Linked DNA regions of Homo sapiens: regions 1, 2, 3, 5 and 6 are each linked to region 4. Evidence: fine-mapped expression QTL. A gene starts in region 4. Each other region holds a variant in brackets. All regions are shown on one strand. Distances are between the middles of the regions.

Region 1 (4,088 bases), 74 kb before region 4:
CAAATGCAAAAATCTTCAAATAGTGGGGATCAGCTGTATATTCTCAACATCTACTTATTGAGAATGTAAACTTGATTCTCTGATACTGACACACACGTGGCCTCTGGAAATCTTGAAGTTAAACATCTGCAGGGCATCTACCTAGTGTAATTTGGATAGTTCCTTAGAGCTGCATGTCTTAATGTCTTCTTCCACTTTTTCCTTATCTTGGTTTGAAAGGCTAGGAAAGGATTCACTCCTTTGGGCTTCAAAACATCCTTGTTATATTGAACATGTGTTATAAATAATCAGGACTGGAAACACAGAAGTCAGGGTGAGCTGAGGAGGGGAGAAGAGCAGATAGCACTTCCTCATCTGTGCATTAACACATGATGAGTGGCAAATTGTATTTTCCAAAGATGGCCAGTGTCTCCTATCGTCTGTGCTCTTCTACGTTGTGACCTTAGTTCCCCCTCATCAAGACGTGGAGTCCACTTGAATCTGAGTGGGCTTGTAATTGTTCAAACAGTAGAGTAGGGAAAGTGATACTGCTTGACTTCTGAGGCTCAATCATAAAAAGTGACGCAGCTTCCTCTTAGTTTTCTAGAACACTAGTTCTTGGAGCCTTGAGTCTGAATACCTAGGCCACCATGTTGTGAAAACACCAACCCATGTATAGAGGCCATGGGTAGGTAATGAGTCACCTATCCTCGTCTTTGAGTCCTATTAGCATAGGAACCAGACCTGTGAGGAAGGGAGCCTTGAGATGATATTTGCTCCCGGCCATCAAGTAACCATTGGCCTTTGCTTCTTTCCAGCTAAGGTCCAAGACATTGTGGAACAGAGACAAGCCATTTCTACTGTGTCCTTATTGAATACCTGGCCCACAGTATCCCTGACCATAACAAAATGGTAAGGGTTTAAGTGGTAAAGTCGTTACATGTTTTGAAGGTGGTTAATTCTACGGTAAGTGACCAGACAAATGGTTCTAAATTCACTTGTGTTGCTAGTGTCATAAGACAAAATTACAACAAATTTGGTTTAAAGATCTTAATTGCTGCCTGTGTTTTTGAGGTCTTAGCCATAAAATCTTTGCCTAGATCAATGTCCTGAAGCATTTCTCCTGTGTTTTCCTCTAGTAGTGTTATAGTTTCAGATCTTACATTTACGTCTTTAATCCATGTTGTGTTGATTTTTGTATATGGTGAGAAATAGGGATCCAATTTCATTCTTCCGGATATGGATATCCAGTTTTTCCAACACCGTATATTGAAGAGAGTATTTTTTCCCCAGTGTATGTTCTTGGCACCTTTGTTGAAAATAGTTTGCTATAAATACGTGGATTTATTTCTGGGTTCTCTATTCTGTTTCACTGGTCTATATGTCTTTTTATACTAAATATCATGCCATTTTGGTTACTATATGTAACCAAATATAGTATATTTTGAAGTCAGATTGTGTAATGCCTACCACTTTGTTCTTTCTACTCAGTATTGCTTGGCTATTTGGGGTGTTTTGTAGTTCCATATAAACTTCAGGATTATTTTTCTATTTCTGTGAAGAATGTTATTGGTATTTTGATAAGAGATTGAATCTGTAGATTACTTTGGGTAGTATGGTCATTTTAACAATATTAATTCTTCCAATTCATGAGCATGGAACGTCTATTTGTTTGTGTCTTCTTCAATTTCTTTCATCGGAAAGAATTTATTAAATTTGATTAAATTTATTCCTAGACAATTAATTTTTTATAGCTATTTTAAATGGGATTACTTTCTTGATTTCTTCTTCAGCAAGTTAATTATTGGTATATAGAAATGCTATTGATTATGTATGTTGATTTTGTATTCTGCAACCTTGTTAAATTCATTTATCAGTATAGCCATTATAGAAAACACTATGGAAGTTTCTCAAAAAATTAAAAATAGAACTACCATGTGATCCAGAAATCCCACTGCTGGGTATTTATCCAAAGGAAAAAAAATCAATATATCAAAGGGAGACCTGCACTCCCATGTTTATTGCAGCACTATTCACAATAGCCAAGATACAGTATCAATCTAAGTGTCCATCAACAGATGAATGGATAAAGCAAATGTGATACACACACACACACACACACACACACACACACACAATGGAATACTATTAAGCC[G/A]TAAAAAAGAATGAAATTCTATCATTTGCAGGAACATGTATGGAATTGAAGGGCATCTTGTTAAGTAAAATCAGCCAGGCACCGAAAGACAAATATTGCATATTCTTACTCATATGTGGGAGCTAAAAAGATGGATCTCATGGAGGTAGAGAAAAGAATGGTAGCTACTAGAGGCTATGAAGGGTGTGTGGGATGAAGAGAGGTTGGTTAATAGGTACAGACATATAGTTAGACGGAATAAGCGCTAGTATTCAGCCTCAAAGTAGGGTGACTATAGTTAACAAAAACATATTGAGTATCTCAAAATAGCCAGAAGAGAAAATTTGAAATGTTCCTAGCTCAAAGAAATGATACATGTTCAAGGCGATGGATATCCTAAATACCCTGATTTGATCATTACACATTCTATGGCTGTGTCAAGATATCACAGATACCCCATAAATATGTGTAATTATTATGTATCAAAAACTTTATATAAAAAACATTAATTTGCTGTATTTTTGATTCTACAATTGGGCAGCACTTTATTCCATAAAATAGAATGAGTGTTCTGATGAGCCAAGAAGAGGAGGTTGGTTTTACAGACAGAAAAGGGCTGTGGAAAGCAGAAAAAAACAAACAAAAAAAATGTGGATTGGTCATTTCAAAGTTTCTTTTCATGTAAAGGTTAAAGCAGAGGGGACTTTCTTGTCCTGCTGGCACTGGATCTAGGTCAGTGTTGGAGACGATGTCTGGGACTCAGGGCCTTCGCAGATCACAGAGGCTGGTCTTGCACAACCTCTAAGAGGCCAGGCCAGGCCATGGCTTACCTAAGAGCTCAGCCCAGGGAAGCCCTAGGTCCTTTCCTGGCATCTTAGAGGGAACCATGTCTTACTGGCTCAGGCTAGACTTGCACATTAATCCACTGAGTTGACTTTGGATCTTACAGGCTCAAAGGGTGGTCTTTGGGAGCAGGAAGTGATCAGGACCCTGGTCAGATTCATATATCTGCAACTGAGCCCACTCAAAGAAATAAATAGAAAAATTACATATTTTTGGTTATTTGCCTTAATGTCACAGATTACCATTAGGCCAAAGATCTTCTGAGGTATATGCGTACAAGGTGATTTTTTAGTGTTTTTTTTTTTAAATTCTCTCTTTTTCTATAAATTTTAATGATGACTTGAGTATAAAACAAGATGATCCACTCTGCAGCACCAAAGGTGGGCAAGAGAAGAGATCAGAATCTGGTATGAGACTGAAAATCACTGTGGCAACCAGCTTCAGTGGGGCAGCTGGGGTTGGCTCTGAAGAAAGTCTGTTCCATTTGTATAGCAGACAGGAGCCCATGGGGTTCCCATCAGCTAGCACTGGGAGTGGACTTCAGAGGCTGCACGGGCTGCTGTTGGACTGGTCTAGGGGACGGGGGAGGAGGGAAGATGCCTGTGAGGCAAGGCAGAAGGGCTTCTAGACCTCAGACTGAGGGTCAGGGAAGACCTATCTTCCTAAAGGTGTTGGGGAATAGTTAGGCTAGCAGATCAGAACAGGTCAAAAGAATAAGCACTATGGTAGAGGCTATTGTGGGTTTGGGGAAGGGGAGAGAGAATAAAGGGAGGAGAGATCTGCAGCTTGTGTGCCTACACTGTTTCTCAGAAGCCTAGGCCTGGGAGCTGGTTAGCAGCAAGAACACACAATAGGGAAAGCCCCGTAATTGTCCTGGCTCCTGGCACTGGGAGACTGACTTAGTTCTCATGGCGAGGAGCTCTCTGAGAGTATCACCCGGGCAGAAATGTAAGGAGCACACCTGGTTTTGGCCAGTCATTGCCATGTTTGCAATAACATGGCTGTGGGCCAATATCATTAGGCAACTTTGTGACTTGGTCATTGAGCAATGATCGAGGTCCTATTTGAAAGCTAAGGTCAAGCTTATGAAGCAATGCCAGCTTGTAACATCGTGCAGGTTTATTTAACACAG
Region 2 (4,088 bases), 99 kb before region 4:
CTTATTTGTTTTCTGTCTCCCCAGCTAGAATGCGAGCTCTCTGCTGGAACACAGTAGGTACTCAACAAATATTTATTGAATGCAGTTGCTTTGTTCATAACTGAGCAGAACTCTCCTTCTCACGAATGCGTTCTTTCTTTAGGTATAGTAATCTCGTCAGTCAGGGTCCAGTCAAATCTTGCTATCCTAGGAACACATTTGTTATTTAAAGTGGTTTCCTGTATTTCTTCTCTGATTCATTCTTAAAAGGCAATCTAATTTCTTGAGGTTCCAAGTTCATAGCACAGGGGTCATCCCATGGTAACCCCTGCATACTCACAACAGGAACATGTAATATACTCATGAACATGCAATTTGACACAAGAATGCACATTGGATGGAGCTGAGGGAATTAGTAAGGAAAATGGTAAACTAAGAGATAGGAATCTGCCCATCAAAGAAGAGTGATGAGGTGATTTCCTTGACCCAGATGAGATTGCACAAACACCATCTGTGTTTATTGCTTCACTTTCCCTCCCATTGACACCATGTCATTCATTTGCAGGGCCTGCTGAAGAATTCAGCAGTGGAATCTTGCCCACCCACTGCACTTTCTGTTGTTTAGAATGGTTTAATAAAGAACTGACTGACTTCTCAGATGGCGAATCTCAGAGGGCGCCTATCCTACCAGCTTTAAGCCTCACCTCACCCTCCAAAACAAGGCCCTAGGCTCTGTGGCCTGTGTTAGCCTCTCAGAGCCTGCTCTGGCCAGCACTGGCGGTGGTACCCTGGGATACTGACCAGGCCTCGGCATTCTTGTCTTATTCTGGGGCAAGAGAAAGTAAAGAGATAATGGGTTGCCCTTCATAATTTTAGTTAGACAGCCAGGAGTGGTGAGGCACACCTGCAGTTCCAGATACTTGGCTGAGGTGAGAGGATCTCATGAGCCCAGAGTTTGAATTCAGCCCGGGGAACATAGCAAGACTCCATCTCTAAAAAAATTAATAATTTTACTTAAATTTTGCTTAGAATCTTCACACTTCTACTAAAGCTGCCTCTCTTCCTCCCAGAGATGGGAAGTCAGAGAATTATTCTACATGACCATTTTGTAAAATTTTGACCTACATTTCTCCATTTCATTCCTGAATGGGAGTAGATAAAAACTCAGAAGTCATCTCTATTCCGAGCTGAGTAAGAAGAAAAGAAACACCTGGGATGATTTTCTTCTGCCACCCTCCCTTGCGTATTTGCCCCTCTATTGCTTGCACGTGATGCCTCAGCTTCTCTTTCTAGCTCCATCTCCCCTCTTTAGCAACCAAACTACATTTCCGATGGCTGGATGGACATTTTCACTGGATCTACTCATGGCATTTCAAAGTCAATATAACTAAAACCATATTAATAATCTTTTAATCGATGCCAAGTCTTTCTTCTGGTTTCTTTATTTAGGTTAGTAACAGTATCATTCTTCTTTTTCACGCAGCCACCAAATCACAGACCTCCGTAGGCTCCTGTTGGTGAAGTCTTGCCTATCCTACCTCTAAGAATTTGATCCCTCTTTTCCATTACTACCTCCAAATTCCTAATTCAGACCCCGGTCACCTACCACCCATTCTAGCTTAAGAAGCTGTCAAGCATAGTGATTAAGGGCAGGTACCTGTGTCTAGATTAAAACACTGCCTCTTCTGCTTTAGCTGTGTGAATTTGAGCAAGTTGTTTAATCACCCTAAGCCTCAATTTTATCATCTGTAAAGTGGGCTAATAACGGTTCTTGCTATCAGAATTAAATCAGATTATGTATATGAAGTAGCATCTGCAAAGCACTCAGTACTGGTAGTGATTAGTACCACCTGTTCTCTCATGACTCCATTTCATTTGACTTACCACCGCTAGGTTTACCTTCAACAAGGCAGCCCTGATCACGTTTTAAAAATCCTCAGTGCCCCCACCCAGTATCAACCTAACACATAACAGTCCCATTTTGGCATTCCAAATTTTCCATAAGTCTTATGACCTCCTACTGCCTTAAATTTACCCTCTGTTCCAGTCAAATGGACCACTTCCCTCTTCCCCACATCCTCTCCACAGTATAGCCTCTGTGCGTTTGCTTACATTATATTTTCTGTTTGATTCACCCTCCCTTTCCTTCAAGGTCTTACTTGAATGGCTGCTCTCTGATGACTAAATGTCTTTTTCTCTTCTTTTATAGTCTCTGCACATAATTGCACCTGTCTAACATGATGACCTGCTTTCTTCCTGGTCC[G/T]GCATGTTCATCTTACCTCTCTAGCTGGAGGAACCTTCATTCACCTGGCTTCAAGTCACCACATGTCAGCATTAAGGCTGAAACGTTCAAGCAGTCATTTCCCCTCCTGCCAACAAGATACTAAAAAACCAATTTGAGCAAATTCTCCACTAAGCCACTTGGCTAGATCAATGTTTGATACACAAGGTCTTGCTCAAACAACAGCCAAAGCTGGAAAAAAATTGTGGCTATGAGACACGGAAAGGATCTAATTATTCTTCCTTAAGCAATGTTCTTAACCGCAGCCTGTTTCCCAGCTTCTGAGCACTCTGCTTGAGTGATTAGCAATGCAAGATTGCACATTGGCCTTACCTCATACAGGATGAGGTAGTTCAATCCAAATTTCTCAAATAGTTTTTAACTTTTTTCTTCCCAGTATGTCTGTAAGAGCTGGAAAATCATTCAATAGTTTTTAAAGAAAATTTGTGCCTTTAGCAGCAACTGGATGCAAACATCAGTTCTCATTTAAAAAAAAAATTTCAGCTTTATTGGGGCATAACTGACAAATAGAAATTGCATGTATTTAAGGTATATGACTTGATGTTTTGATATATGTATACATTGGAAAATGATCACCACAATCAAACTAGTTGACTTACCCATCACCTCACATAGCTGCCTCTTTTCTTTTGTGGTGAGAACACTTAAGATCTACCCTTGTAGCAAATTTCAAGTCTACAATACGGTATTGTTAACTGTCGTTACTATGCTGTATATTAGGTCTCCAGAACTAACTCCTCTTGCATGGCTGAAGCTTTGTACCCTTTGACCAACATCTCCTCATTTCCTGTATACCCCAGCCCTGACAACCACCATTCTACTCTCTGCTTCTAGGAGAGTAACTATTTTAGATTCCACATATACAAAAGATCAGGCAGTATTTGTCTTGCTGTGACTGGTTTATCTCACTTAGCATAATGTTCTCCAGGTTTGTCCATGTTGTCACAAATGGAAGGATTTCCGTTTTCAAATATCAGTTCTCTTCAAACCGTTTGAGTACCCTGAGAAAGTTTTTGGTTTCCAGTGGCTGCTCCTTTCAGAAACTATGCTACTTTCTAAAATCTCATTTAGGAGTAGCAATACTTTACTCCAGACACTGGCCCCAGACCAGTGTGGGAGGAAAGCCGTGAATCCTTAAAGAAAGTGATGCTTTAAAAGTCTGAGGTTAAATTCCATTTTGAAAAGTTTTAGCACAACTTCCCTTCTCCCCAGAGCTGAACCTCACTTCGTGCTATTTTTTACTCAGTTCAAGAGTGTTTTTTTTTTTTAAATAACTTGTCTCCTTATGAATTTTAAATAAGTTAATTAATAGGATATTGCTAGTTTAAATCATAATATAAATTCAGAAAATATTTTATAAATGGACCTATGCCATTTGGACTTAAAAAAATTATAAAGGCTTGAAACATTTGTGTGCATAATCCTGTTTTTATAATTTCAGTATTTTGCATTGAAATATACCTCACACTACACAGCTGACCTGGCAGTTCTATGAATGGCATTCAAAAAAGTCAGTCTTGTTTCATGAATTTATCTGTCAGCAAAATGCCTCTTTTATTATTGTTTTAAAATATATTTATCGGATTCACTTTTGCCTTTTCTTATGACGTTTGAAGATATTTGCATTTGCTTTTCTCTTTCTCCCTTTTTTTTTTTTTTTTTTTGAGACAAGTTCTCGCTCTGTCACCCAGGCTGGAGTGCAGTGGCGCCATCTCAGCTCATTGCAACCTCCGGCTCCTGGGTTCAAGAGATTCTCTGGGACTTCAGGTGTGTGGAAACTTGCCTGGATAATTTTTGCATTTTTAAT
Region 3 (4,088 bases), 31 kb before region 4:
TTTTGACATACGGTATTTTCAACTTATGATGGGCTTATAGGAACAAAATCCCATTATCAGTTGAGGAGCATCTGTTTGTGGAGAAATAATCACAATCCTGGAACAACTCATCTGACCAAATTTTCTAATGTTTTATATCTCAGATTACAGTAGAAACATGATTATTGTAGAAAAAAATCAGGAAATACAGAAAAATATAAAGAAAAAAATAATCCCATCACAGAAAGAAACATTAAACATTTTGCATCTGGCACTCTGGTCTTTGAACTTGGCAGATTTAGTGCTCTTTATTTTGTTTTTCAATATTGGAATCACACTCAATATACTGTTTTATTTACGTTGACAATGCACTGCTAACCTACTTTAAGTTATGAACATATCGTGGACATTTCCCCACATTTCCACGATTTTTATTGTTGGTATAATATTCATGTTAGGATGTGCCCAACCAGATACTTTAACTGCAATCAAGATAAACCCATTTACTCAGAATCTTGGCTCACAGCGTAAGTAAAAATGACTGGATCTCTAGTTGGGCCCTATAATGCGAAAAGTCTCACTACACCAGGACGGTATGTTACTGGAGAATGGAGCAGGCGCAGAACAGGGCAGCCTGCTTTCTGTCTCTCCTGTGTTTCTGGGAAGAGAAGCTATTTTCTCCCCTCCTCCTCTGCTGTGATTAGATTTATTTTCTAATCTCTCTCTGTTCATTTGTGGTTTATTGTTTGCCAGAAGTCCCCATGTCTGTTGTTTTGTCATTCTGAAGCGGCTTCGTTGTCTGGGGTAAATACCCAGGGTTCGTTACCTGGCGCCAAGAAAATTTAGGACAGGGACACAAAGGAGGCCTTTAGGAGCGCAGGTTTAATAGGCAGAAGAAAGAGAAAGGAGAACAGCTTTCTCTCTAGCGAGAGAGCGGGGCTTCTGAAAGGGAAAGACTTGCTGGGGCGGAATTCTCCAAATTTTTAGGCAGGTTTGAAGAGGCGGTGTCTGATTTACATAGGGCCCACAGATCAGTTCGATTAGGTGTGATGTTTACATAGCAGGAGGAAGGCTGGCTACCTCACCCTCATCTTACTATGCAAAAGAGCTTTCCACTTGACCCGCGCCATGTTGTCTGTTCCTTAATGTACACGTGGCTGGCACTGAGAAAAGGAAGATGGGCTGGGCGCGGTGGCTCACACCTGTAATCTCAGCACTTTGGGAGGCCGAAGCAGGCGGATCACGAGGTCAGGAGTTCAAGACCAGCCTGACCAACATGGTGAAGCCCCGTCTCTACTAAAATACAAAATTAACTGGGCACGGTGGTGCATTCCTGTAATCCCAGCTACTTGGGAGGCTGAGGCAGGAGAATCGCTTGAACCTGGGAGGTGGAGGTTGCAATGAGCCTCCACCATGCCATTGCACTCCAGCCTGGGCGACAGAGCGAGACTCCGTCTCAAACAACAGCAACAACAACAAAAACAAACTAACTAACCAAAAAAAAAAAAAAAAAAAAAAAAAAAAGGAAGAGAAGATGGAACCGCCATTTTGAACATGCCTAGTCCCAGGTAGTATTCCTCTGCTGGCATCTATGTCTGTAGCTTGATTTCACAGGCTGCTCTTTGTTAGAAAGGAAAAGTATTTGGGGCTGGTTTTCATTAAAAGGAAAACCTTACCGAGGACTTCTGTACCCTCACTATCTGCCGAAGTAATTTATTTTTAACTTGTGTATTCTCTGAGTGGTTCAGAGAATCTTAATAAAAGAGGAGGAGGTAGGGTGACCCTCAGCACTTAGGAAAATACGGACACCTCATTCTGGAGTGCCTGAAGTCAGCCTGCAGGAACTCCCTGTGTCTGAGAGGCAGCCCTCGCTCTTCCTGAGCTAGTGGCAGAGGAAAGCGGCTGGAACAGCAGGGTCCTGTAGTGTGGGTGGGAGCTTTAACTCACGCTCCTTCCTATCTGTTCCCACTTAAAACCATCTGGGCTGTGAGGAGGTAATTTTCTAGCCCTTCAACTTGTGTGACCACACACATTCTTTAAAGAGATGTTTACTAGCTTCACAGGATTAAAAACAAATTCTCCTTTAAAAAGTTCAAAACAAACAAACAAAAAAAAAACCTCTCAGTTTTCTCTGTGTTCCCTCTTCTGACTCTCCATAAGAAAGGTATTTGTGGCCTCTCTGAACCATGACTCAGATTTTCACTTGAGTTTTGACTTTTCTCTTTTCCCTACAACTTCCTGTTGCTGCTGTGAAATGCTGTTGCCTGAGAGGGCTTTTCTTTTTTCCCCTGATTTAACTCCAAGGTGATTT[A/C]TGGGTCCCTGTCTCGATCTATGTCTCAGTAGAGATGAGGGGAAAAAGAGACGGCCAAGACCTTCACGGCCTCCTCATTCTCCTGACCTTAGAGTCCAGCTCACACAGAGGCTGGCTAGGAGTGGAAGTGCCACTTCTCCATGAGGGCGGTCCCCATTCCTGACAGTGCCAACTGAGGATTGTACATATTTTAGGCAGAAAAGCACAGGACCTTTGTTTTTTAGAATTCCACTCTGATTTTTCTTCTTATTTTTTCCCTGTGCTAGTGACCCAGGAATAAAGCTAGGGAAAGAGAAAATGTGATCATTCCGGCCTGGGGAAGGTGAAAGGACAGGATAGCAACAAATAACAGAGAATGATGCATAACAGCATATTGATAGTCTTCACAGTTTGCAGAGCATTTTCATATCCATTATCTCATTAGCTCCTCACAGCCGCCTGCGGGGAAATGCACCACAGGCATTGTGCTTATCCTGGTCTGCAGACTAGGAGCTGCAGGTCTGCGATGGATGCTGTGAGATGTCACCCAGACCCCTCGTCAGGGCGGAGAAACTCACTCCCCAGCTGTCCAGTGCCCACTGCAAACAGCCACAATTGAGTCCCTCACTGGGAATTCCCCCGCTGAAGGAAGCTGCCTTTGCCAAGGTTATCTCCCTCCCTGGGCCCTGCCTTGATTCCAGGCAACTCTACGGGGCCATCCCAGCTCCAGAACACCCTGTAGGATCAGCTGAGAACCCTAGGATCAGCTGAGAACCTTGTAGCAGCTGCATCAGAGGTCAGCTTCTCTCTCTGCCCAATTTTCCTTTCCTCCCTCTCTCCCTCCGGGGGTTGCTCTTGAGAGCTCTCCCTGTTAAACTTCTTGCATGCAAGTCCCCATCTGAAAGTCTTCCAGGGAACCTCACTGTATTGGCCCATTCAGGCTGCCATAACAAAGTACAACAGACTGGTGGCTTAAACGATATAAATTCATTGTCTCACAATTCTGGAGGCCAGAAGTCAGAGATCACAATGTGCTCTGGGACTCTCTTCTTGAGTTGCAGATGGCTGTTTTCTTTGTGTCTTCACGTGGTCTTTGCTCTGTGCACATCTGTGTTTTCAATCTTCTTATAAGGATACCAGTCATATTAGATTACAGCCCTCTCTAACAACCTCATTTTAACTTAATTACCTCTTTAAAGACTCCATATCCAAATACAATTATGTTCTGAGGTACCCGGGGTTCGAGGTATGAGTTTTGGGTGGCCACAATTTAGTTCATGATACCTACCTAACACAATGTTGAAGAGATTGAGTGACATGCCCCAAATAAAGCAGTGTCCCCTTATTTAACAACTTATAAAATATCTTACAGCCCTGTGGTTCTCCCTGATCTTCTGCCACTTATACCTTATGTAATGGAATGGGAAGGTATCACTGCCAGGAAATCAAGAATTAGGATCCGGAGTTTCTGTGCTCTGTTCGCTACTACACGTGATCTACCACAATTGGGAATCTAACTCATTCTGTTCTGCTAAATTGTTGCCAGTGCTCACAAACGCACATTGTAGTGGACAGTATAATAATATTATTGTTAACTGATGTTATTAATGACCACAAAATGACAAAATTAAGGACACACAAAAAAATCACCTGGAGTATACTCTTGGTGAAGCAATAACACAGGGTACAAAAGAATACAGAATACACAGATCTGGGTCTCTGGGATAAAGACTAGATCCTAAAAATTGTAACTGATCAGAAAAATACAGAGCTGTATGGTCCCAAGTGGGAAATATTTCATACAATGGTGATCTGACAA
Region 4 (4,084 bases):
CAGGGTCAGCTATGAGGCACACTCCCCTGGCCTCCCTCATAAGCAATTTAATTGCAAAGGGTTAGCATACTATTTCTTCTCTGCTATTCTCAGAATTCTCAATTATGAAAACAAAAACAATAATTAAAAAGTTCTTCCAGCTGATTTTTTTTTTTTTTTTTTTTTTGAGACAGAGTCTCACTTAAACTCTGCTGCCCAGGCTGTAGTGCAGTGGTGCAATCTCTGCTCACTGCAACCTCTGCCTCCCACGTTCAACCAATTCTGCTGCCTTCCCCCCTGATCCCCGAGTAGCTGGGATTACAGGTGTGCACCACCACGTCCGGCTAACTTTTGTATTTTTAGTAGATGGGGTTTCGCCATGTTGGCCAGGCTGGTCTCGAACTCCTGACCTCAAGTGATCCGCCCGCTTAAGCCTCCCAAAGTGCTGGGATTACAGGCGTGAGCCACTGCGCCTAGCCCCACGTGCATTTTTTTTTTTAAGGGAGGCAGGAAAGAAGGCATTTGGGCCTCTTATCTGCAATTTTCTTCCGTGTAAACTTATGTGAAGGATCTGGAGTGGGACTTGGTGGCTTCAAGCCCTGGCTCCACTTCTTGATGGCTGCGCGACCTGGGTTAAGTCACGCAACCTCTCTGAACCCTAGTTTATTCATCTGTAAACAGGTCAATAATAGCACGAGATTCGCAGCGCGAGTGGAGCTCAAAGTGCAGGGTTGTCCCTGGTGAACCTATCACTTTTATATTTATCCTTTGATGAAGCCAGTACAATTCCTACCTGGTTAACCAGATACATCCCACCTCTTCCCTCGAGTTCGCCCTTCCCCCCGCCTCGTGAAGTCCTTGTTCTCTTAGCTGTCTTGAAAATCCTATGCATCAGCATGTAGGAAAGGGCGCGCCAGGCGGGGGAAGCCACCCCCGCCCAAGCGCCTCCGGCTTCCCTTATAAAGGGAGGGCCCCCTTCGCGACCGCAAGCGCGCCCAGGAAGACCACAGAGCCGCCGGTGCGCAGCGAGGTGGCGATACGCGCCCGGGCTCGGCCTGCGGGTGGTGGCCCAAGCGTCCGCCTCGCTGGCCTGGCAGGCGCGACTGTGCGTGCGCAGCCGAGGGTGGTGGCGGCCGGCACCCCACGCCAAGGGTGGTGGTGGCCGGCACCCCACCCTCGGCCGCCGCCTCCGCGTGTCAGGTGCCGTGAGAAGCGCGGGAGGAGCGGCCGCAGGCAGCGCCCAGGGATATGACTGGAGCCGACTTTCCAGAAGCGGCGCACGCAAAGCCCAGCTCCGCACGCAAAGGGGAGGCGACAGCAGAAACTTCAACCCGATAAAGTTCGCCGGAGCGCGGAGATTCGCCTCCTCCTGCCACTCTCCGCCCCGCTCGGGTCCCGCCCCGCTAGCTCCCCCAGGCCCCCCCAGTCGCCCCAGCTTGGCTCCCCGCCCTGCGCCAACGGCTTCCATCGCAGCCTGGGCGGCCCCGCGCCCACCAGCGGGCGGCGCCACCTGGAGTGGCCTCTACGCGGGAAATCTCAGGGCCAGCTGCGCCCCAGGAGCCTTTGTGTGCCCAAGCACTGTCGGGGCCCCGGGGCGGGGGAGCGGCTACTTTTAGGGATTCCTGATCTCGCCGCAAGAACTGGAAAAAATTTAGCATGCCAAAGAGCCTCCACTGAGGTGGCAATTTGTTTGCGAGAACCTAAGATAAAATTTAAACAACCAACCAGGGGCGCTGTGAGGCAAACCGCTGCCACTACACTGGCTTTCCGGGAAGCAAGCTCAAGTCGCGGAGAGGGAAGGGAGGTCGTGCGCTCGGGGCGGGGCGCGCTCCCAAGTCGAGCGCAGCGGCCGGGGCAGGTTGTACCGAGCGTGGTTCTGGGGACACCGTGCGGCCTCGATTGGAGGTGGCTGTGATGAAGCGCGGTTACCGCACAATGGAAACGTGGGCACCTCCGCTCCCATGAAAGCCTGCTGGTAGAGCTCCGAGGCCGGCCGGTGCGCCTGGACGGGAGTCCGGGTCAAAGCGGCCTGGTGTGCGGCGCGCCCCGCCCCCCGCAGGCCCCGCCCTGCCAGGTCGCGCTGCCCTCCTTCTACCCAGTCCTTAAAACCCGGAGGAGCGGGATGGCGCGCTTTGACTCTGGAGTGGGAGTGGGAGCGAGCGCTTCTGCGACTCCAGTTGTGAGAGCCGCAAGGGCATGGGAATTGACGCCACTCACCGACCCCCAGTCTCAATCTCAACGCTGTGAGGAAACCTCGACTTTGCCAGGTCCCCAAGGGCAGCGGGGCTCGGCGAGCGAGGCACCCTTCTCCGTCCCCATCCCAATCCAAGCGCTCCTGGCACTGACGACGCCAAGAGACTCGAGTGGGAGTTAAAGCTTCCAGTGAGGGCAGCAGGTGTCCAGGCCGGGCCTGCGGGTTCCTGTTGACGTCTTGCCCTAGGCAAAGGTCCCAGTTCCTTCTCGGAGCCGGCTGTCCCGCGCCACTGGAAACCGCACCTCCCCGCAGGTCAGTCTGTCTGCCGAGGCGCTGCCCGGCGACCTCTTCAGATGGATTATTACAGGTAGCGGGTGGCGTGGTAGGTACTTTAAAGGAAATCAAGCGCCACCGCCTCGATGCCCGCAGCGTTGTCCCCAGATTGCAGGAACCGTTACGCGCCTTGCGGGGAGGGGAAGGGTTTGGCGCTGGGTTACAGCGAGGTGGAAACACGCCCCTTCTCTTCTCCAAGGGAGAGTGGGTTGGGGATGGGAAGGGGCGTCTTCGGCCATTTCTCCAGAGAGTCAGCTCCGACCTCTCCACCCAACGGCACTCAGTCCCCAGAGGCTGGGGTAGGGGCGTGGGGCGCCCGCTCCTGTCTCTGCACCCCTGAGTGTCACGCCTTCTCCTCTCTGTCCCCAGCATGGGCACCAGCCTCAGCCCGAACGACCCTTGGCCGCTAAACCCGCTGTCCATCCAGCAGACCACGCTCCTGCTACTCCTGTCGGTGCTGGCCACTGTGCATGTGGGCCAGCGGCTGCTGAGGCAACGGAGGCGGCAGCTCCGGTCCGCGCCCCCGGGCCCGTTTGCGTGGCCACTGATCGGAAACGCGGCGGCGGTGGGCCAGGCGGCTCACCTCTCGTTCGCTCGCCTGGCGCGGCGCTACGGCGACGTTTTCCAGATCCGCCTGGGCAGCTGCCCCATAGTGGTGCTGAATGGCGAGCGCGCCATCCACCAGGCCCTGGTGCAGCAGGGCTCGGCCTTCGCCGACCGGCCGGCCTTCGCCTCCTTCCGTGTGGTGTCCGGCGGCCGCAGCATGGCTTTCGGCCACTACTCGGAGCACTGGAAGGTGCAGCGGCGCGCAGCCCACAGCATGATGCGCAACTTCTTCACGCGCCAGCCGCGCAGCCGCCAAGTCCTCGAGGGCCACGTGCTGAGCGAGGCGCGCGAGCTGGTGGCGCTGCTGGTGCGCGGCAGCGCGGACGGCGCCTTCCTCGACCCGAGGCCGCTGACCGTCGTGGCCGTGGCCAACGTCATGAGTGCCGTGTGTTTCGGCTGCCGCTACAGCCACGACGACCCCGAGTTCCGTGAGCTGCTCAGCCACAACGAAGAGTTCGGGCGCACGGTGGGCGCGGGCAGCCTGGTGGACGTGATGCCCTGGCTGCAGTACTTCCCCAACCCGGTGCGCACCGTTTTCCGCGAATTCGAGCAGCTCAACCGCAACTTCAGCAACTTCATCCTGGACAAGTTCTTGAGGCACTGCGAAAGCCTTCGGCCCGGGGCCGCCCCCCGCGACATGATGGACGCCTTTATCCTCTCTGCGGAAAAGAAGGCGGCCGGGGACTCGCACGGTGGTGGCGCGCGGCTGGATTTGGAGAACGTACCGGCCACTATCACTGACATCTTCGGCGCCAGCCAGGACACCCTGTCCACCGCGCTGCAGTGGCTGCTCCTCCTCTTCACCAGGTAAAGCCTCTGGGAGGCGTGGGCCAGGTCTTTTCTCCTCTGAAAAAGGCGGAGTAGAGACAGAATATGCTGAGTTTGCAAGCAGGGCCCCGGGTTTGGGGTTTCGCTCCAGGTCCCCACCCCTCAAAACCAAGATCGCGTCGGTAAAGGGACTCACAGTGAGGG
Region 5 (4,088 bases), 130 kb before region 4:
GCTAAGTAATTTCTATTGTTCTATGTTCCAATTCACTGATTTTTTTTCTCTATCTTCTCCATTCTGCTGTTGAGCCCATCCCCTGAGCTTTTTATTTCAGTTATTTTATTTCTTAGTTCTAAAATTTTCATTTGCTTCTCCTCTATTTCTTTTACTTCTTTCCTGACATTTTTTTTTTTTGCTGGGAATTTATATTTTTGTATTCATTTCAAGTATGTTTATAATGCTTGTCAAAGCATTTTTAATGTGACTACTTTGAAATCTTTGTCGAAAACATTTTAACAGCTTTCTCATCTTGGTGTTGGCATTTATTGTTTATCTTTAAAAATTCAATTAGAGATATTTCCAGTTCTTGGTAGGATGAGTAAATGTTAAAGTTAAAATCTGGACATTTTATATTATCAGACTCTGGATTTTATTCCAATATTTTGGTTTAGCTGGCAAAATATTGGCTGGCTTTCCCTGATGTCACTGTGTCAGGGAAAGGTTGCAGAGTGCTCTTTTGTTAATTTCAAGTAGAGATAGAAGTCTAGGTTCCCCACTCAGTCTTTATGAATTCTTGGTAGGGTGGCTTCTCATTACTGCTGAGCAGAGGGAGTTCCAGCTCTCCATGTTGTCTCTGCTGACACTGTGGTAAGGGTAGCCTCATTACTGCTGGGTGATGATTAAAGTCCCACCTCTCTACCTGACTGATACCACCTTATGGGGAGAAATGCCTTGTTACTGCCAGGTGGGACTGGAAGAAGTTCATGTTCTCTACAAGCTGTCCACTGGTACCATGAGGGAGGAAGGTGGGTTGTTATTGGCCAGCTGGGATGAAAGTCCTAGTTGCCTTCTTGGCCTTCTCTAATACCACCCTGGAAGAGGTTTGGAGTGCCTCGATAGAGCCTTGCAAGGGTGGAAATCTAGGCTCTCACTTGCCCTTGCCTGTGTGGGTGAGGATGGGCTCACAGGTTTTTGTTGTTGTTGTTGTTTGTTTATTTTTGTGAGGTTTAGCTAGGGTAGAGTGGTTATTGTCTAAATTATCTAAAAGTTGTTTTGTCTTTCTATGCGGCTCTTTTCTTAGTCCTTTGGCTTGAGGAGAGTAAGCTTTTGTTGGGGGTGTTTTTTGGTCTGTGTTTGTTGGCATTTCTAGGTTACCTACTTCTTTAGTTCCAAGTCTGGAGTATATAAGGCAGAAAGAAAACCCATGGAACTCACCATATTTTTCTATGGGTATCACTGTCTCTAGCTGTTCTACTGTCTTCTCTTCACCTTTCAAAGTGATCTTACGTTTGCTTTATATATACTATCCAGCATTTTCACTTGTACTTAGAGGAATGAGAAAAGCATATCTGTTTCATCTTCCTGGAAACAGGAGTCTTCTTTATTTCTTCAATTGTTCATTTTTAAAAAAAATCTTTTTATTATATTTTAAGTTCTGGGATACAAATGCAGAACGTGCAGGTTTGTTACATAGGTATACGCGTGCCACGGTGGTTGGCTGCACCCATCAACGCATCATCTACATTAGATATTTCTCCTATTGCTATCCCTCCCCAGCCCCCCACCCCATGACAGGCCCCAGTGTGTGATGTTTCCCTCCCTGTGTCCATGTGTTCTCATCGTTCAACTCCCACTTATGAGTGAGAACATGTGGTGTTTGGTTTTCTGTTCCTGTGTTAGTTTGGAAGCAGGAGTCTTGACACATTTTTGAGAAAAGAAAAAACTATCCACTCATTATCTATTCCTGACATTTTTTTTGTTTTTATATATTCCTTTTGATTTCTTGTCAACATGTATACAATATTGTACAAAATAGTAATCAGTCTATGTACCTTTTTATTTCCTGTTTTTTCATTTATTATATTTTAAGATATAATAAACATTTCCCTATGTGTTTATATAGACTTCATAATTACTATTTTAATAGCCACTAATACTTACGCTGTTTTCAGGCCTATTTTTAAAAACTTTTTTTCTATTGGTTATTATTGCTACTTCTTTTTTCT[A/G]TTAGAACCAACACTGCAAAATTACATATAGCTTTTTATTTGGCCTCTTTTGAACTTCTTCCTTAGGATAAATTTCTAGGATAAATGTATCCTTTTTTAGGATACATTATTTTTAAGTCAAAGAATATTTTTAAATGAATTTTGTGATATACTGTTTGGCACTCTCTACAAGGAACATAGAAATTTATGCTCAGTGTTCAGTGTAGTAATTTCTTCACAATGTCATATCTTTTGGATTTTACATTAGTTCTCTGTGGTTGTGGTCCAGTCTCATCCTTACTTGAAACCCTGAAGGACTCAACTTGCAATACTGAGTTACATCACGTGCATTTCAGCCAGTGGCCTTCCAATCAGTGGCACCACTGGAAAATAAACTTTAGATAGAACTGTTAGTTGGCCTTCTATGGATAATTACTTAGGACTCCTCCTCCTCTCTCTTTTCTGAGATGAATTTTATTGGAGAAACTTCTTAACCTGAGAAACAGAAACTCACCCCAGGCATTACTTCTATAAGGTGAGTATATCTGCATTCAAACTTCCCAGAAAACTGAAAAAAACCAATGTTTCTTTCTGGATCAGATAACTTGAGGTCCCTTCCTAATGGGGACCTAAGCCAATCTGTAGCCTCCACAAGTGAGTACTTCGGAACTAGAAAGGTTGGACATACTCTAGTGTCATATTAGAAAGCTGGAGAATCAATTTGTGGCCTTTTGGATGGACACTGGCTGCTCATTAAAATCCTCTTTTTGCATCTACTTTCTCACCATACTTTGTAGCCTGATTCTAACTACTAAATCCAGCAATCTTTTCTTATACTTCTCATCTTTTTGAGCATTCTAGCCACTGTTCAAATGAATTAACTTTATGAAGTAGTATCAACTAATAGCCCCATTTTATAGATGAAAATTGGAAGATTTGAATCCAGAAATTCTGGCTCCAAAGCCCACACTCTTAACCACTGTGCTGCTTTTGTGTTGATGATTAGCTGCCCCTGTCTCTTCTTTGAAGCATTCTTTAGCCTGGCTTCTATGTGCATGCATGTCTTGGTCCTTTTCCATCTCTTTGTTTTCTTCTTCCAACACCTACAGGTAAACATTCACCAAGATTCCTTCTTTAGCTTTCTCTTCCCTTTGCCTTTATCATTATCTGTGACTGTTGTAAGGAATGACATATTTATCTCCAGTAATATCCTGTCAACTCCAAGTATACGTCACTTTTCTTCCTGTTGGCTGAACATCTGTATTTCCACAAAACCCATCATTTTCAATTTCAACTGCATCATCTAACCATAAAACATGATTTTACAGGGTACATTTTTTATTGACATATAACATAAATGCAGACAAATGTACCAAATAATAAGTGTACATTTGAGGAATTTTCATAAAGCGAACACACTCTTGTAGCCAGCACCAAGATAAAAAAAATAGAACATCACCAGCACTTCAGACACACCTCTTGTGCTTTTTCCAGTCACTATCCACTTCACCCCAATAGTAAGCACTATCATAATTTTTAACATTATGAATTAGTTTTTCCTGTATTTGAACTTTATATAAATGTAGTTGAACTTTTGTGCTCTTTGGTGACTATCTTTTTTCATTCAACATTATGTTTGTAATGTTCCATGTTTTTGCATGTAGAGGTAGTTTGTTCACTGTATAACAGCAGTCCCCAACCTTTTTGACACCAGGGGCCACTTTCGTGGAAGACAATTTTTCCATGGACAGTGGGTTGGGGGAGGTGATGGTTTAGGAACAAAATTATTCCACCTGAGATCATCAGGCATTAGATTCTCATAAGGAGCATGCAACCTAGATCCATTGCATGTGCAGTTCACAATAGGGTTTGTGCTCCTACGAGAATCTAATGCCATCACTGATCTGACAGGAGGCGAAGTTCAGGTGGTAATGTTTGCTCACCCACTGCTCACCTCCTGCTGTGCAGCCTGGTTCCTAATAGGCTACAAACTGGTACTGGTCTGTGTGGCCTGGGGTTTGGGGACCCCTGCTGTGTAATATTCCATTATGGGAACATACCACTATTTATAAAGTCCATTTTATTGTTGATGGATATTTTGGTTGGTTTGCCATGTTG
Region 6 (4,088 bases), 53 kb before region 4:
GGGAGGAGGTTGGTGAAGACTGGTAAAGTAGAGAAGAGAGACATTTTAACAAAATATTCATATTTATCTGGTCTCTAACATGAAAGCTGCATATTTTGTGGTATATTAATTAAGTCATTTTTATAAGTTATAAATGATACTAGTACAGTAAGTCCTCACTTAATGTCATCGATAGGTTCTTGGAATCTGTAACTTTAAGCAAAACAACATGCAGCAGGTTCATAAATAATGTCACTTCCTTTAACGTTTTGTTATAACGTTGATGAGAAAAAAACGCTTTTGTTACATGTCATTTTGCTTAAAGCTATAGTTTCCAAGAAACTGTCGATGACATTAAGTGAGAACTTACTGTATAATAACATTATGTTAGAGTTTAGTGGGCTCCCAAAAGATCTTCTCTTACCAGGTAGACAGTTCTCTCTTTTAGAGATAAAAGAATTGAGCCTCACAGAGGCCGTATGAGCAGTCAGAGTCCCACTATGTTCCCACCTACCATTCACCACTAAATCCTTAGTCTGGCTGCAGAAAACAGAAAAGATTTATTTCCTCAAAAGTCAACTTCTTTAGACTACATTGACCCTAATAGAATTCAGAAAGCAACTCTTAGACTCAAATTTTTCTGCTTATTGCCACCACCACACTCCCCCAGTCATATGACAAGAGTCGTTTGCGGTAGGAAGCAAAACCAGAAATGCACTTGAGCAGTCTTTCTATGTCCTTCCTTGCCTCACCCCCATTGGGGGCCTGCATGATGGTGAGTGGCCACATAAACAGTCCCTACGTCTCCAGGAGTTCCCTTGGCCATGGCTGCTGGAATGACTCATCCTTCTCCATCTGTAGCCTAGGCTTTCCCCTTCTCCTTAATTTCCATGAGGGAGCAGTCTTAGATCAGAGCCTCCCCAAGGGGACAGGACCACAGCCCTCCCTAAAAGGTCCTGGATCTGGTATAAATCTAACCATGGGAGAAAACAGAATTCAGTTACAGACAACATCAAGGGCAAACTTGAAGGGGAGCAAAAATCACAATATGGGTGTGGGAACTGGACCACAGAGTTACAGTGGTCATTTCCTCCCCACCACATCTTGTGAACTTTACCTTGCCCACTGCCCCAAGGGGCAACCATGTGGCTCATGGCCCTGGCCACCAATAACTGAATTGGGAGTAGACCCACTTTAAACATGACCCACTTTAACCAATCAGACATCTTTATCTAGAACTTGGAGTTGGGACACAGAAAGCCTGAGGGTGTTTTTTTATCTGTGAGTGCTAGACTCACAAGATTCTGTGGGCTCAAGGACTGAGTTAGACAGTCATTTAAGGTCATGTGGTAACAGAGTATGCTTGACGAAGGGGGAGGATGGAGCAGAGACAAAGATAACTGAGAGAAAGGGAGGAGGAAGGGCAGCTCCAGACTCTAGCCCTTCAGTGATCCAGGTGCAATTCTTCAAACTGGGTTTCACAGTATTCCGTTATCACTGTGCAAGTAATCCCCATTTACTTAAGTTACTCTGAGTGGGTTTCTGGCCCTAGCAACTGAGTGCTCCCCCACCATAAGATGAAATGGCTAGGCTGGAGCTGGGAGGCAGAGGCAGTGAGTGAGGAAGCTAGACGGATTTTTCCAGAGAAAGTAAGTCCTAGAGTCCAAGCATATGCACGCTATCCACACGTTCCAAATTTTAGGAGACAGCCCTGTTTCAAATGTGCCAGCTTGCCCAAATTTCTGTTTAGGCAATTGTGGTATATCTGTTTATATATATAATTTTAGCATTGGGAAGGCCCTCCTAAGTAAGACACAAACCTGGAAACCACAAAGAAAAGAAAAGATTGACAGATTAGACTACCTAGCCCTAAATTTTAAATTGCCTTTGACAAAAGCCACCATCAGCAAAATTAAAAGTGAAGGGGCAGCTTGGGATCTAAGTGACAGCTGGAGAGCCCCTGCACACTACAGACTCCCTCCTGCTGCAGATCAGACTTCTGGACAAGTCCAGCCCTGGCTTTGTGGCTGTCATGACTACTGAAAATGTCGTAACTGTTGGCAGCAAGAACATGACCTCTTGCTGTCCCAAAATGAGGAAATGAAAGGGAAAAAAGAGGAAATGGGATGAAATGAAAAATGGATGCAAACAA[C/T]AGAGAGTGAGCAAGAAACATTGAGAAAGATGAAAAAAATGAGCTGTTTATCTCTCCTCTGCTTCTGGGCCCTCTCCTTTGTGCTACCCTAGTGATGTGCTCTATTGGTCCATTCTTACGTTGCCATAAAGAACTGGGTAATTTATAAAGAAAAGATGGTTAGTCAGCTCATGGTTCCTGTGGGCTGTACAGGCTTCTGCTTCTGGGGGAGGCCTCAGGAAACTTACAATCGTGGCACAAGGTGAAGGGGAAACAGGCCATTAGCAGCAGGAGAGGGGCAAAGGAGATGCTACACACTTTCAAACAAGCAGATTTCCTAAGAAATTGGGGGAATGGCGCTAAACCATTAAAAACCACCCCTGTGATCCAATCACCTCCCACCAAACCCTCCCTCCAGCACTCGGGATCACAGTTCAACATGAGATTTGGGTAGGGACACAAAGCCCCACCATACCATTCCACCCTTGGCCCCTCCCAAATCTCATATCCTCTCACATTGTAAAATATAACCATCCCTTCTCAACAGTCCCCCAAAGTCTTAACTCATTCCAGAATTAACTCAAAAGTCCAAGTCCAAAGTCTAATCGGAGACAAGGCAAGTCCCTTCCACCTATGAGCCTGTAAAATCAAAAACAAGTTAGCTACTTCCAAGATACAATGGGAGTACAGGCATTGGGTAAATACTCCATTTCCAGAAAGGAGAACTCAGCCACAACACAGGGGCTACAGGCCCCATGCAAGTCCGAAACCCAGCAGGACGGTCATTAAATCTTAAAGCTCCAAAATAATCTTGACTCTGTGTCTCACATCCAGGCCATGCTGATGGAGGGGGTGGGCTTCCAAGGCCTTGGGCAGCTCTGCAGGGTACATCCCCTGTGGCTGCTTTCATGGACTGATGTGAGTGCCTGTGGATTTTCCAGGTACACAGTGCAAGCTGGGGTCTGGAGGAGGATGACCTTCTTTTCAGAGCTCCACTAGGCAGTGCCCCAGTGGGGACTCTGTGTGGGGGCTCCAACCCCACATTTCCCCTTTGCACTGCCCTACTAGATATTCTCCATGAAGGCTCTGCCCCTGCAGGAGACTCCCGCCTGGACATCCAGGCCTTTCCATACATCCTCTGAAATCTAGGTGGAGGTTCCCAAGCCTCAACTCTCATCCTCTTTGTACTTGCAGGCTTAACACCACATGGAAGCCACCAAGGCTTGTGGCTTGCACTCTCTGGAGCAGCAGTCTGAGAAGTATCTGGGGCCCTTTTGGCCACAGCTGTAGCTGGAGCAAGTGGGATGCAGGGTGCCATGCCCCAAGGCTGCACAAAGCAGCAGGGCCCTGGGCCTGGCCCCATGAAACCATTTTTCCCTCCTAGGCCTCCAGGCCTGTGATGGGAGGGGCTGCCCCAAAGGTCTCTGGAATGCCTCATAGGCATTTTCCCCATTGTCTTGACTGCTAATATTTGGCTCCTCTTTACTTATGCAAATTTCTGTATTGGGCTTGAATTTCTCCCCAGAAAATGGGTTTTTCTTTTCTACCACATGGCTAGGCTGCAAATTTTCCTATCTATCTTTTATGCTTTGCCTCCCTTTTCAGGTCATTTCTTTGTTTATGCAGATGAGTTAGGCTTTTGGAAGCAGCCAGGCCACATCTTGAGCACTTTGATGCTTAGAAATTTCTTCTGCCAGATACCCTAAATCATCTCTCAAGGTCAAAGTTCAACAGATCCCTAGAGCAGGAGCACAATGCCACCAGTCTCTTTGCTAAAGCATAGCAAGAGTGACCTTTACTCCAGTTCTCAATAAGTTCCTCATCTCCATCTGAGACCTCATCAGCCTGGCCATCTCTGCCCATATCACTATGAGCATTTTGGTCAAAACCATTAAACAAGTCTCTAGGAAATTCCAAACATTTCCTCATCTTCCTGTCTTCTTCTGAGCTTTCCAAACTGTTCCACCCTCTGCCCATT

What was found. PIP is the estimated chance that this variant, and not a neighbour inherited with it, causes the effect.
Region 1: its variant is fine-mapped to the expression of CYP1B1 in whole blood (TOPMed, PIP above 0.99).
Region 2: its variant is fine-mapped to the expression of CYP1B1 in whole blood (TOPMed, PIP above 0.99).
Region 3: its variant is fine-mapped to the expression of CYP1B1 in whole blood (INTERVAL, PIP 0.96).
Region 5: its variant is fine-mapped to the expression of CYP1B1 in whole blood (INTERVAL, PIP 0.95).
Region 6: its variant is fine-mapped to the expression of CYP1B1 in whole blood (TOPMed, PIP above 0.99).

What each region holds. Positions count from the first base shown.
Region 1 is chr2:38,148,552-38,152,639 of GRCh38, reverse strand. The region is part of intron 2 of CYP1B1-AS1 (CYP1B1 antisense RNA 1); the gene reads right to left. It overlaps LOC107985871 (a long non-coding RNA gene), which reads left to right and starts at 2,474. Exons shown (of 4, transcript XR_007086290.1): 1 at 2,474-4,088. The variant G/A (reference allele first, on the strand shown) is at 2,135.
Region 2 is chr2:38,173,189-38,177,276 of GRCh38, reverse strand. The region is part of intron 2 of CYP1B1-AS1 (CYP1B1 antisense RNA 1); the gene reads right to left. Among named protein-coding and RNA genes, the nearest start is that of CYP1B1-AS1, 44 kb to the right of the region's middle. The variant G/T (reference allele first, on the strand shown) is at 2,243.
Region 3 is chr2:38,104,798-38,108,885 of GRCh38, reverse strand. No RefSeq gene overlaps it. Among named protein-coding and RNA genes, the nearest start is that of CYP1B1-AS1, 24 kb to the left of the region's middle. RefSeq lists enhancers at 512-1,251, 1,252-1,991. The variant A/C (reference allele first, on the strand shown) is at 2,291.
Region 4 is chr2:38,074,181-38,078,264 of GRCh38, reverse strand. CYP1B1 (cytochrome P450 family 1 subfamily B member 1) reads left to right here and starts at 2,114. Exons shown (of 3, transcript NM_000104.4): 1 at 2,114-2,485; 2 at 2,876-3,919. The coding sequence starts at 2,877. RefSeq lists silencers at 999-1,118, 2,029-2,118, cis regulatory regions at 1,162-1,191, 2,112-2,119, an enhancer at 1,093-1,291 and a promoter at 758-2,133.
Region 5 is chr2:38,207,430-38,211,517 of GRCh38, reverse strand. All of the region lies in intron 1 of LOC102723739 (a long non-coding RNA gene), which reads left to right. Among named protein-coding and RNA genes, the nearest start is that of CYP1B1-AS1, 78 kb to the right of the region's middle. The variant A/G (reference allele first, on the strand shown) is at 1,992.
Region 6 is chr2:38,126,851-38,130,938 of GRCh38, reverse strand. The region is part of intron 2 of LOC107985871 (a long non-coding RNA gene); the gene reads left to right. Among named protein-coding and RNA genes, the nearest start is that of CYP1B1-AS1, 2.2 kb to the left of the region's middle. The variant C/T (reference allele first, on the strand shown) is at 2,132.